Homo sapiens: one gene and its partners. The protein of the gene in region 3 purifies or fractionates together with the protein of the main gene of each other region. This does not show direct contact. Each region holds a gene or a part of one and is shown on either strand. Other genes may lie near its edges. The genes, in order: EOGT, EEA1 and SAMD9.

Region 1 (3,656 bases), on a different chromosome or scaffold from region 3:
TCCTTTGGAAACCCTGTCCTCCTTATCCCACATTTATCAGATAGTCATATTTTAAGACAGTCGAAATATTTTTAGGTTTAGAATCATTCCCCCAAACATGTGCTAATGAAGAGAAATTGATAAACTGCGTCTTTACAAATTCATTCTCAGATAGTTTGGGACAGATGATATAACACCACCATACTGCTCTATATTTGCCCAGAGCTTTACAGTTTGCAGAAAGCTTTTCTGTGTGTTATCTCGTTTGATGCTTATAAGCGTTATAGCAGATACTACTGATGCCACTTTATCAGTATGGAAAACAGGGTCCTCAGAGGAGTTAAGCAACTTCTCCAAGACTGCACAGCTACCTTTTAAAATTAATTACACATCTAGGATTAAAATGCAGGTTTTTTTCCAGTTTACTTTCAACCATACCATATCGTACCTCAGTGGATCAGATAAACACGTTGTCAAGAGGTGGTTTGGGGTAGTAAATACAAGAGCAGGCTCTCAACTACAATTCAGATCCTGAGTCTTAGACAAGGTACTTAGGCTTTCCTTGTTTCAATTTCCTCTGCCTTAAAGCCATGCCCATTATGTAGCATATGGTAAGGAAGAAATGAGGTTCTGCAGATAAAAATGCTCAGTGCAGCAGGGCCTGGTTCCCGGCCAAGGGCTCAGCATTATTTTTTAAAGGTTGATGAAGTTGTAAGCACTTACGATTAAGGTACACTGTTCAATGATCCTGAACCCTGAGTCTCTGACATCTCAGGGGTCTCCGATCTCCAACCACACTGGAGAACTAAAAAAATTTTTTAATTTACTCACATTCAAAAACTGAGTATATACTTTATAGAGCTATTGGAGGGTGTCACGTAATAGAGCTTTGAGCATTCTAGCAAGGTGAATGAGGCCTCAGGATGTGAGGCATGCCATTAAACTGCACGGCCGCAGGGTGTCTTTAACAGAGTTCTGTTCTGTCTTGCACATTTGGCTCAAGTCTAGCTGTTCACATGGAAAGGGCAAGATAATAATGACAACCCCTATCTTGCACTCCTCTTTCAAGGTGGCTTGTAGAATGTTCTTTTGATTAAGATTTACCTTGATTTGCTTTGTGCTAGCAGAGTATGATCCTTGTCTTAGTTGTTTGGGCTGTTATAACAAAATACCATAGACTGGGTAGCTTCTAAACAATATCATCACATTGGGGGTTAGAATTTCAACATATGAATTTGGCAGAGACACGGACATTCAGTCCATTGCAATATTTTACCAACTACAGACTCCAAAACACCATGCAGGTCAAGATTGAGACTTTGTGTTCATTGGGAGTTTTGGGAAAAACAATTAAAATGGCATTTAAATCTATAAATAAAACCCAGAGCAGATAAAAGTTTTTGAAGTTCTGAGCATAACCCAGATTGGTTGAAATAGAATCAGGCTCTGGTAGCTGACTCTTCGACTCCTTTCTTCAATTATTTAGAAAATATTGCCCTCATGTTGCTGTTGAGACAGAGGCTCCCACAAGCTTTACGGTTTGCAGAAAGCACCTCTTATTAAAACTGGCAAACTTCCCTCCCTGCTTTTAATGTCTCTTACATGTGCATTTTTCCTTGTTTCTTTTGGCTTTTGGAAGCTGCTTTTTCATATAGCTGTGGGGGTAGTAGTACTGGATCTGGGTACTTTTTTTTTCTTTTAAAGGGGACTGAACTGAGCCACATATACAGCTCTTGGCTTTAAAATTTGAGGTGACAGATCGTTGGGGAGTTTTCCATGGTAACTTAAAAGTGGGAAACTGGCAAAAGTATGCTTGGCCAGGGTCTGCTGGGAAGGAGAAAATATCCTTCAGCAGATGCAGTCTTTGGAGAGCTTTCCTTGTCATGTTGTGTGGTTTGAATGTGAGGGTATCCGTGCTGTCAGTGTGTCTAGCAAGTCCGGATGAGTCTTTGCTGTGTTAATACTCAGAGTCATTCTTTTCTTTTGCTCAACCTTCAGAGTGACTCAAGTCTGGTGTGTTCCCGTTATCTTCAGTACTGCAGAGCAACCAATCTCTATCTTGATTTAAGAAACATCAAGAGAAATCATGACAGGTACTTTAGTGGTTAATGTTAACATCTAGTATAAATTCTGAAATATTTTCAGATCCAGGGATTTTTTTTTTTTTTTTTGAGACAGGGTCTTGCTCTGTTGCCCAGGCTGGAGTGCAGCGGTGTAATCATGGCTCAGTGCAGCTGTGACCTCCCAAACCCAAGTGATCCTCCCACTTGAGCCTCTCAAGTAGCTGGGATACAGAAGCGCACCGCCAGGCTTGGCTAATTTTTTAATTTTTGAAGAGATGGGGTCTTCTAACGTTGCCCAGGCGGGTCTCAAACTCCTGAGTTCAGGTGATCCTCTCACCTCAGCCTCCCAAAGTGCTGGGATTATAGGTGTGAGCCACCAAGCCTTGCTGAAGGGGTATATCTTGAATTTGTTTTTGATGATATGGCAGAGGGGTTGGGGAATGGGTGGGGGGATGGATGACTCAGACAGGCCATGAGTTAATCGCATTGCAAAGTTGGGTTGTGGATACATTAGGGTCCTGATAGGATTCTGTTACTTTCATATACACTTGAAATTTTCTATTGTAAATAGTTAAATTCTTTTAAAAAATTCAGTTTGGAAATTGGTAATCCACTTTAGTTACAACCCACGTGCTTGGGTCATGAAGACGTTTTCTGAACTTAACTTAATGTTTTGTTATATACCAGATTTAAGGAGGACTTTTTCCAGAGTGGTGAAATTGGAGGGCACTGTAAACTTGACATCCGTACATTGACGTCTGAAGGTCAGCGCAAAAGCCCTCTGCAGTCATGGTAAGATATTTTTAACGTATCTGTTTCGGAAATATTTGCCTTTATTTACGGCACTTGCAGATATTAATGGAGACTCTCAAATGGAAAATGTTACTTCATTTGTACATAATTTGGCATGAGCTTCTGGGAAGTGACGGAAACCGAGTGAATCCCTCAGTTGCATCTGAATTAAGTATGTGTTTATAATAGTAGATACAGTACTTACTGTTTGCTAATGAAAGAAAAAAATCAGCTTAAAAATCCATTTTTATTAACTCACAATTGCCAAGTTTTATTCACTTACAAAGTCACATAGGTTACTTACATAATGTTAATTTTTGAGGTCAAACGTCCATGCCAAGGCCAGGAATGGTGGCTCATGCCTATAATCTCAGCACTTTGGAAGGCCAAGGTAGAAGTATTACTTGAGCCCAGGAGTTCAAGGCCAGCCTGGGCAATATGATGAGACCTCAAATCTAAAAAATAAAAATGTGTTTTGGGGAACCCATTTAAAAAACAATACACATATATTAAAGTATGTAAAAGCATACAGAAAAAGGTACAGTTTGGATTGTGAAAAAGTGAACCCACCCATGTAACTTTTACCCAGGTCCAAAAATAGAACATTGTCAGCACCTCAGTCTCCCTCCCAGGCTCTACCCCCATCCCCCTCTCCAAAGGTAGATGCTACTCTGACTGTTAACATCATTGGCCAGCTTTTTGAATTTAAAAAGTTTGTATTTTAAAATAATTTTAGACTCATAGAAGTTTAAAAATAGTATGTATTATACCCAAGACTGACTAACTTACAAAGGAAAGAGGTTTAATGGACTCATGGTTCCT
Region 2 (3,656 bases), on a different chromosome or scaffold from region 3:
ACCATTGGAAGTCTATCACAAATGCTTTAACACACTAAAATACTATATTTATTGCTAGGGTATATAATGGCAAAAAGGTAATGAGATTGATTTATTGGCTAAAAAATTCTAACTCAATTTACCTGCAATTTCAGTAGCAAGTTGGGCTGCTTTCTGTTCAAATAAGTCTTTCATTTGCTTAATATTAAAATTTTCTGTTTGGGCTTCTTCTAATTGCTGTTCCAAAGACTGTAGTTCTACAAAAAAGTGTCGCAGTTATTCAAATACCATGTTAATTACATATGCTAAATTGTTATTACTTATATTTATTACAGTTGTAAAGATGATCAACTTAAGTTTATTATCCAATTACAAGTAGTATTTTGACACTTCAAGAAATTAAGTATATCTGCTTCACTTAAGGTACAAATCATAATTTACAAACATACACTACAAATGAAATGAATATTTAGAATCACTGCTAAATAATCTATAAATATTTTATTACAAGTTATTTTGATTTCACATTTCACAGTTATTTTCCCATATCCATCAAATGACCAAAAAGGAATACACCCCTTATCTTTTTTTTAAGAGATGGGGTCTCGCTATGTTACGGAGGCTGATCTTAAATTCCTGGGTTCAAGCCATCCTCCCCTATCAGTATCCCAAAGTGTTGGGATTATAGGCATGAGCCACCAAGCCTGGCTCAAAAAGGAAAACATTCTGCTCCTCTGATAAAATTAGTTATAAAGCGGGATGTTGGAAATGGTTAAGATCTCAAGGCCTTTTAATTCATTAAAGTATGCAGTCAACTCCTAATACTTCATCATAAAGAAAATAAACTATCTTACTCTTAATATAGACTTAAAATTTCATTAAACAACCATATTAATGTAATATTCCAGAAGTTTCTTACTTCAAAATATAATGAACTAAAAAAACTAAACTTTTAGTTAACTGATTAAATTATGAAGTTCACATGTAACTCTCTACACCTAGAATATGACCATTATCTTCACTGTTTTAGAGTCATAAAGCATAACCATGAAACAAAATTCATTTGGCAGGCATCAAAGAAAAAGAAAGGAAAACAAATAAGAAGAAAAAGAAAACTGACAAAATATCTGCTTTAAGTAAAGTTACCTGCTGATGAATCAGTCACCAACCCATCAGGTTTGGCCTCCTCAATTAAAACAAAAGACATAAACAAATGAATTAAAAGGAAAAGATAATACTGTTAAAATGGTCAATGTTAAAAAATCTCTGAAAGTCACTTTCTTTCAGGTAAGTAGTAAGATTTTGGTGAAAATTTAAATTTGGTGGTTTCCATTCTTCCAGATCTGTAAGAGACCAGCAGGCAGACTAGCCTAATGATCTAACTTCAGTTTATTAGTTCTAACATAGATTTTTTTGTATGTTAATATATATGAAGTTATTATGGTCATCTTAAATTCCATGAATTCAGTAATAAATAAATAGCACAATTATTGTAATTATAAATATAGATTCTAAAACAAATACTTAAGTCAACTGGCAACATTCAATCGTATTAGTATGTAGCTTTGAAATAACTTCTAACACTAACATAGTTTGCTACATGGATGCTACATATTTTGCTGTCATAAGAACTTGGAGTGTTATCCCCCTCCGCTCAAGCATGTAATACCTGTTAGACCCCATATGTGAGAACTTGGAATGAACTTCTCCTCTCTTCAGTAGTATTACATCAGACCTTATCATACCGCAGATCTGAGCTACTGACCTCAACTACTGGACTTCAAAATACATATTAACCAAAGAGTTTGAAAGATACTTTGAAAGCTTAGGCCATGGCAGGCTGCACTTTTTCAGCTGCTTTCTTTGAGACTGGCAGCTCATGCTGCAATAGGGCCATATCCTATTGGCCTTAGATCTTTGAGTCTCGGCAGCCAACACCTACATCTCCTCTAGCAGCAGGAGATCCCCATTGTCTGGGATCTCCACTGTTTTGGATGCCATCTCTCCAGAGAGACTGCTCATAAAAAAAGGTACACCTCAACCCTTTTAGACTTTACTTTTCACAAAAGCCTGCTTCCATCCTGAGAAAGTGACTAGACTTTAATAATTTTGGAACTCACCCACTATATGGTTAATATACCTCATCTATTGATATTCCCTGTAAGATTTGTTCATGTTATTTCTCTCCCTTTTAAGCACTGTGAACCGAAGAAAATCTCTCTTTGGCAATAAACCATGCAATTCATGAAATCATACTTCAAATCATGCTTCTTATTACAATCAAACAGAACACCTATAATAGTTGAACATTTGCATTAGTTAAAACATGCTATCAAGCTATCACTACTAAAACTTGCATTAGTTAAAACATCCTATCACGGCCGGGCGCGGTGGCTCACGCCTGTAATCCCAGCACTTTGGGAGGCCGAGACGGACGGATCACGAGGTCAGGAGATCGAGACCATCCTGGCTAATATGGTGAAACCCCGTCTCTACTAAAAATACAAAAAATTAGCCGGCCTGATGGCGGACGTGCCTGTAGTCCCAGCTACTAGGAAGGCTGAGGCAGGAGAATGCTGTGAACATGGGAGGCGGAGCTTGCAGTGAGCCGAGATCGCGCGCCACTGCACTCCAGCCTGGGTGACAGAGCGAGACTCTGTCTCAAAAAAAAAAAAAAAAAAAATGCTATCAAACTATCACTACTAAAAAAATTGGCTTTATAAGCATAAATTTTTAATTCAGGACAAGTCAACTTTAAAAGAAGCAGAAATAACAGATTCCATAAGGCTTAATTTGTCACATGTATTAGGAACAAAATAATATACTACCTTGGCATTATTTTTATATTTTAAAGAATTATACCCATCTGAAAGAGTTTAATAAGGCATTTCCTAGTATATCTGACTTTTTGTTTCTCTATACATTGAACTAAGACATACTGATTGCTAAGAACCTTAAGTATTTAAAATATATTTTCCCCAAAAGGTAAATTTCCTGCCAAGGTAACTTACATCTTGCACTGTGGAAAAGTTATTTAAGTGTATTAAATGTGAAATAGTCATCTCAAATGCAGTAAACAATTTCCACTCTGCTTTCAGATACAGAAAAGAATACAGCCCATACTCAATTAATTATTAATGGCATCTATATAAAACATGAGTAAATGAGTTATAAGTAATTTGGATTACTAAAAACTCCTTTAATGTTAACAGAATCACCAATTAGAAAAGCTGAGTAGTAATAAGACTGATTATCTTGTCATTTATTTATTTGTTTTTGTCTTTTTCAGTCCAACTGCCAATTCTTGGTGCAAAGGCTTTAAAAAGCAAACAAGCCTCACTGAAAGTCACAATATGCCAAGATAACATGCAAAGGGATTATTAATTACTTTACAAAAATATTAGAACTATTGCTGAAGGGTAACTACTTTTATTCTTACAAATGATGACTATGGTAAAATTATTTGGTAAAACTTCGTTAATCTTTGATTCTTCCTATAATTTCAGAATAAAATCAATATAATTTCAGCATAAAAATCATAATTAAGGCATTTACTTAGAAAATACACTAAACTATATAGAATCTAAGACATCAAAAAAATCCTATTCAAAGAGAACCACTTTTGATACTGCAGTGATTTTCTTCTGTTTTTCTCTATGTATTATTTTTATGTAAAG
Region 3 (4,176 bases):
GAATTCTCTTGGCTTTCCTGGTATGTTGCTGCAGTAATTCTTGAAGCAAAAGTTCATGATGTGAGTCTCCACATGCTGTCCTGTCTGTCCCAGCAGGAGCTGCAAGCTAGTCCTGCCTCCTCACCCTCACAGAACCACCAGAATAATGTTTGACCAAATATCTAGGCACTCTGTGGCCCGGTCAAGTTGACCCATAAAATTAACCATCACACTGGTCCCCATGCAAAGTGAAACCCAGGTTTTGGAGTTCAGGCCCAGGGTCCCCTTACGAGGAGGGCTCCTGAGGGTGATAAGTGTAATGGTCATATCTAGGCTGTCCTTCATAGCCACTTTCTTTCTTCCTAAACCTCAGGATTTAAGAGCACTGGCCTGAAACCTGGATTCGAATCTCTGCCATGTATTAGTTATGCAAACTTTAGCCATATTATTTAATCTCTATGCCTCAGTTTCTTCACCTTTAAAATTGAGATAAAAATAATCTCTACCTCAGGAGATTGTTGTGAAGAGTAATTAAGTTAATATGAAACATTTAGAACAATGCCTGGTACATGGTAAGCGCCCAATAAATATTTTAAAATAAATGTTTTTAAATGTTTTCATCTAAAACCAGTGTGAATCAGTTGTGGGATGTGGAAACCAAAAGCTAATTGAGCACACACAATAAATATCAGTACTTGCTGTTAGTTTTTAAAATATCAGCTATTTTTGTTGCTCTCACTCAGGCAGTTTTCTCTCTGGCCCTGACACTGACCTTAGAAAAGATAAATCTCTACAATGTGACCATCAGGTCTGCTGCAGCCCTGGTCTGCTCTGCAATAAATGAATTTAGCACTTATTGGGGTGCTCAAAGAAGTCCTATCCCTGAAAGACATTCTTTACACTTTAGGAAAACAGGAATGGACAGTAACTCCACCCTTAAAGGCCAGTGAAATATTGACCTAGAGTATCTCCAACCTGGTGCTCTACAAGGCTGGGACTGCAATGTAAACTCATATTCCCAAGGGATCAATTAAGCCAGAATATCCCACAGTTTGTCTATAACAAGACAATGGGGCTTTCTGCAGCCCTCAAAACTCTCAAGTGAGGAAAAATTGTTAAGCCTTCAGATTTTAACCAAGCAGACCAGAAGGTGGTATATAGCCATAGCTTATTAAAAAGCATTTCAGATAGAAAAGGCGGTGCTGTAATTTCAGATCTGAGAAATGAAACTGAAACCAAACCTATATTCTTCCTTCCCCAACCTCCCAGTTGTTAAACACGCCCTGCTGTTTCTGAGCCAATTAGAGCTTGCTGTGAGACAGAAGCAGAGAATACATAGACTTCCGTTAAAACCAGAATGAGGAAAATACTTTTCTCTAGCATCGTAGGAGGAAGAAAACAAACACATCAGATATTTTCAGCACTAAAAGAGATGGTTTTCCCCACATATATGTAAAAGAAATTTGCAAGACTACTGGGTAAGTACAATATCTATTATTAATATTGTTCTTACTATCTATAGCAGCATTTTATTGAATAGAAAGAAATATACTTTTCAATTAGAAGCTTCAAATATACCTCAAAACAAAAAATAGTATTCTAAGCCTAGAAATTCTAGACTATTTGTTGCTCTGACAGCAGTCTGCTTTATATTAGTTGAAAAATTAGTCATAACATTTCATTAAAGATGCAGTTGAAAACTACAGACACTTTTATTGATGAACTCTCCCAAGGCATACAGCATCTTCAGAAAGAACAAACAGGCCAGGTGTGGTAGCCTGTAATTTGAGCACTTTGGAAGGCAAGGACAGGAGAATTGTTTGAGGCCAGGAATTCAAAATTAGCTTGGGCAACATAGCAAGACCCTACCTAGCAAGATTCCTACCAAAAAAAAAAATAGCTGGATGTGGTGGCACGCAGCTGCAGTCTAGCTACTTTGGAGGCTGAGGCAGAAGGATTGCTTGAGCCCAGGAATTTAAGGTTACAGTGAGCTGTAATTGTACCACTGCACTCCAGCATAGGCAACAGAGTGAGACACTGTCTCAAAAACAACAACAACAACAACAACAACAACAACAACAAACGGAAAGATAGATAAAGAACAGGCAATGAAAACTTAAAAGTACTTTACTTTAATCAAATACAACTTCCACCATCTACTCTAAGAAATAGGTAGCTTCCAGAAAACAAAACTCTCTGAGAGCTTCTCAGATATTGTTGTCGGATGACATACATAGGAAGACAGACAGACAGATAGACTACTATGGGAAGTCTTTGGAATTAAGGCAGCTTTATGTTCCTGGCAAAAATACTAGGTTTATGTCTAATTTCTCCCCAAAGCAAACAGTAAGATAATGCAAGACGGTTGGAGGATCACATTTCTGAATAAAGGTCTGACCTTCAACTCCCTTCTAGAAAAGTTAACAAACCCTACAGTTTAACACCAACCAGAGTTAAAAAATGTATGTGGGTTCAATCAGTAACAAATAGTGTTTCCTACTAAGATGCTCAGAACCAAATTTTCAGGTCAGTTTTTAAAGTATACGGAATCAAAACCAGTAATTTTAGGTACTAATTTTACTCCCTCATTTCACCTTTTCTCCCCCTACCCTTATTTAGCCTTCCCCATGATTTCTTTACCTAAGGGTTTTAATATATGTGTGATCCTATATTACTTTCTAAATTACCTAAAAAACATTTTGGAACGAGAGGGTATAAAGAAATCATTAATATGTAAAATATCTATGAACAGTGGCATAAATACCTATGAATGCTGGCATATATTTTCTCCAAGAGTGACATCATCAACAATTTTTTTAAAATAATGTATTGAAAGGCACAGCTATCAATAATCTGACAAAAGCTTTAGGGGAAGAAGTGTGAAAGTGTAACCTGTTCAATGACATTTGAAATATTCATAGTGTCTCTAGTAGAGAAAACAGTCAAAAGTCACTTCTTTATTATTTGCTTACTTTCCCAACCAAATGTTCAGGCCCAGTTCTCCATCCCCCACACTCTTATATGAGAACCTGACTTTACGTTTTCACATATAATGGTATGTAGTTCTTGCATGAATCAAATAATCCATCTAATTCACCAGTCTCATAATCTAGTTTATGACATATCACCAGAGACTAAGGACTGTGTCTGTAAAACTGTGAAAGGTCCAAGTTGATGAAGGAAGTCAGGGAGACCCTAGGAAAAGGGTACTGGTGGGAAGCGGCGAGATGGGGGATGAGAGCCATAGGTATGAGGCCTCAGGAGCCAGCGCACGCTAGCAGCACAATAATCGGGGACCCCTGCTTTATGTGTTAAATAGTGTGGGTGCAACAAAAGTGAGCATACTTTCATAGGGTGGAGTAGACGTGACTCAGTAAATGGATACAAGAAAGTGACTCAGATAGAATGGTTACTAGACGAGGGTGTAGTCAGTTTTTAGACAACTCTAAAACCAGTATTGAATCAACACTGAGTGGGATGCAGAAGTCAAAAGTTCATAATCTGAGACTGCAATAATAAACACCTAGTAAAACTTTAGGACCTCACATACCATTGAATTCACAATTATCCTTGATTCATAACACACCATCATCTTTTTTATGCAAGTATCTCTTTTATTTTATTCATCCGTTTTATTTTCTAATGTATTTTGGAGGCATTATTGGCTTTTTAAATACAGTATAACTTGTATACAATGAACAAACTTAAGGGTAAGCCTTTATGAAATTTTAATATGTACTTATCTGTGCAACCGCTAGCCATATCAAGATATAAAATATTTCCATCACCCCTTCCCAGAAAATATCCACCCCCCAACATCAGTCTGACTTCTATGACAGATTACTTTTGCCTATTCTTAAACTATATAAGTAGAATTCTACAATATGTTTTCTGTTGTAACTGGCTTCTTTCACACAGTATGATGTGATATTCATTCATGTTGTTGCCTGTATCAGTACTTTAATAATTTTCATGAGAATTGCAGATCCAAAGAGTAGGTATATATTTAACTTCACAAAAACTGATAGTTTCTTGAAGTGGCTAAAACAATGTACATTCCCACAGACAGCATATGAGAGCTCCACTGACTCCACATCATCACCAACATTTGGCATTAACAGTCTTTAATTTTAGCCATTCTGGTAGGCATGTAGTATTATCTTGTTGTAATTTTACTTTGCATTTCCATTACGGTAA

What was found.
Region 1: the proteins of SAMD9 (region 3) and EOGT purify together in Homo sapiens (affinity purification with mass spectrometry; one large-scale study listed by BioGRID and IntAct). This does not show direct contact.
Region 2: the proteins of SAMD9 (region 3) and EEA1 purify together in Homo sapiens (co-immunoprecipitation; one study listed by IntAct). This does not show direct contact.

The regions. Positions count from the first base shown.
Region 1 is NC_000003.12:69,003,556-69,007,211, reverse strand, and holds part of EOGT (EGF domain-specific O-linked N-acetylglucosamine transferase isoform a precursor), read left to right. Parts: intron 1-1,977; coding exon 1,978-2,072; intron 2,073-2,729; coding exon 2,730-2,834; intron 2,835-3,656.
Region 2 is NC_000012.12:92,852,790-92,856,445, forward strand, and holds part of EEA1 (early endosome antigen 1), read right to left. Parts: intron 1,166-3,656; coding exon 1,126-1,165; intron 237-1,125; coding exon 123-236; intron 1-122. UniProt on the Homo sapiens protein: Binds phospholipid vesicles containing phosphatidylinositol 3-phosphate and participates in endosomal trafficking.
Region 3 is NC_000007.14:93,115,144-93,119,319, reverse strand, and holds the start of SAMD9 (sterile alpha motif domain-containing protein 9), read left to right. Parts: upstream 1-1,340; 5' UTR 1,341-1,457; intron 1,458-4,176.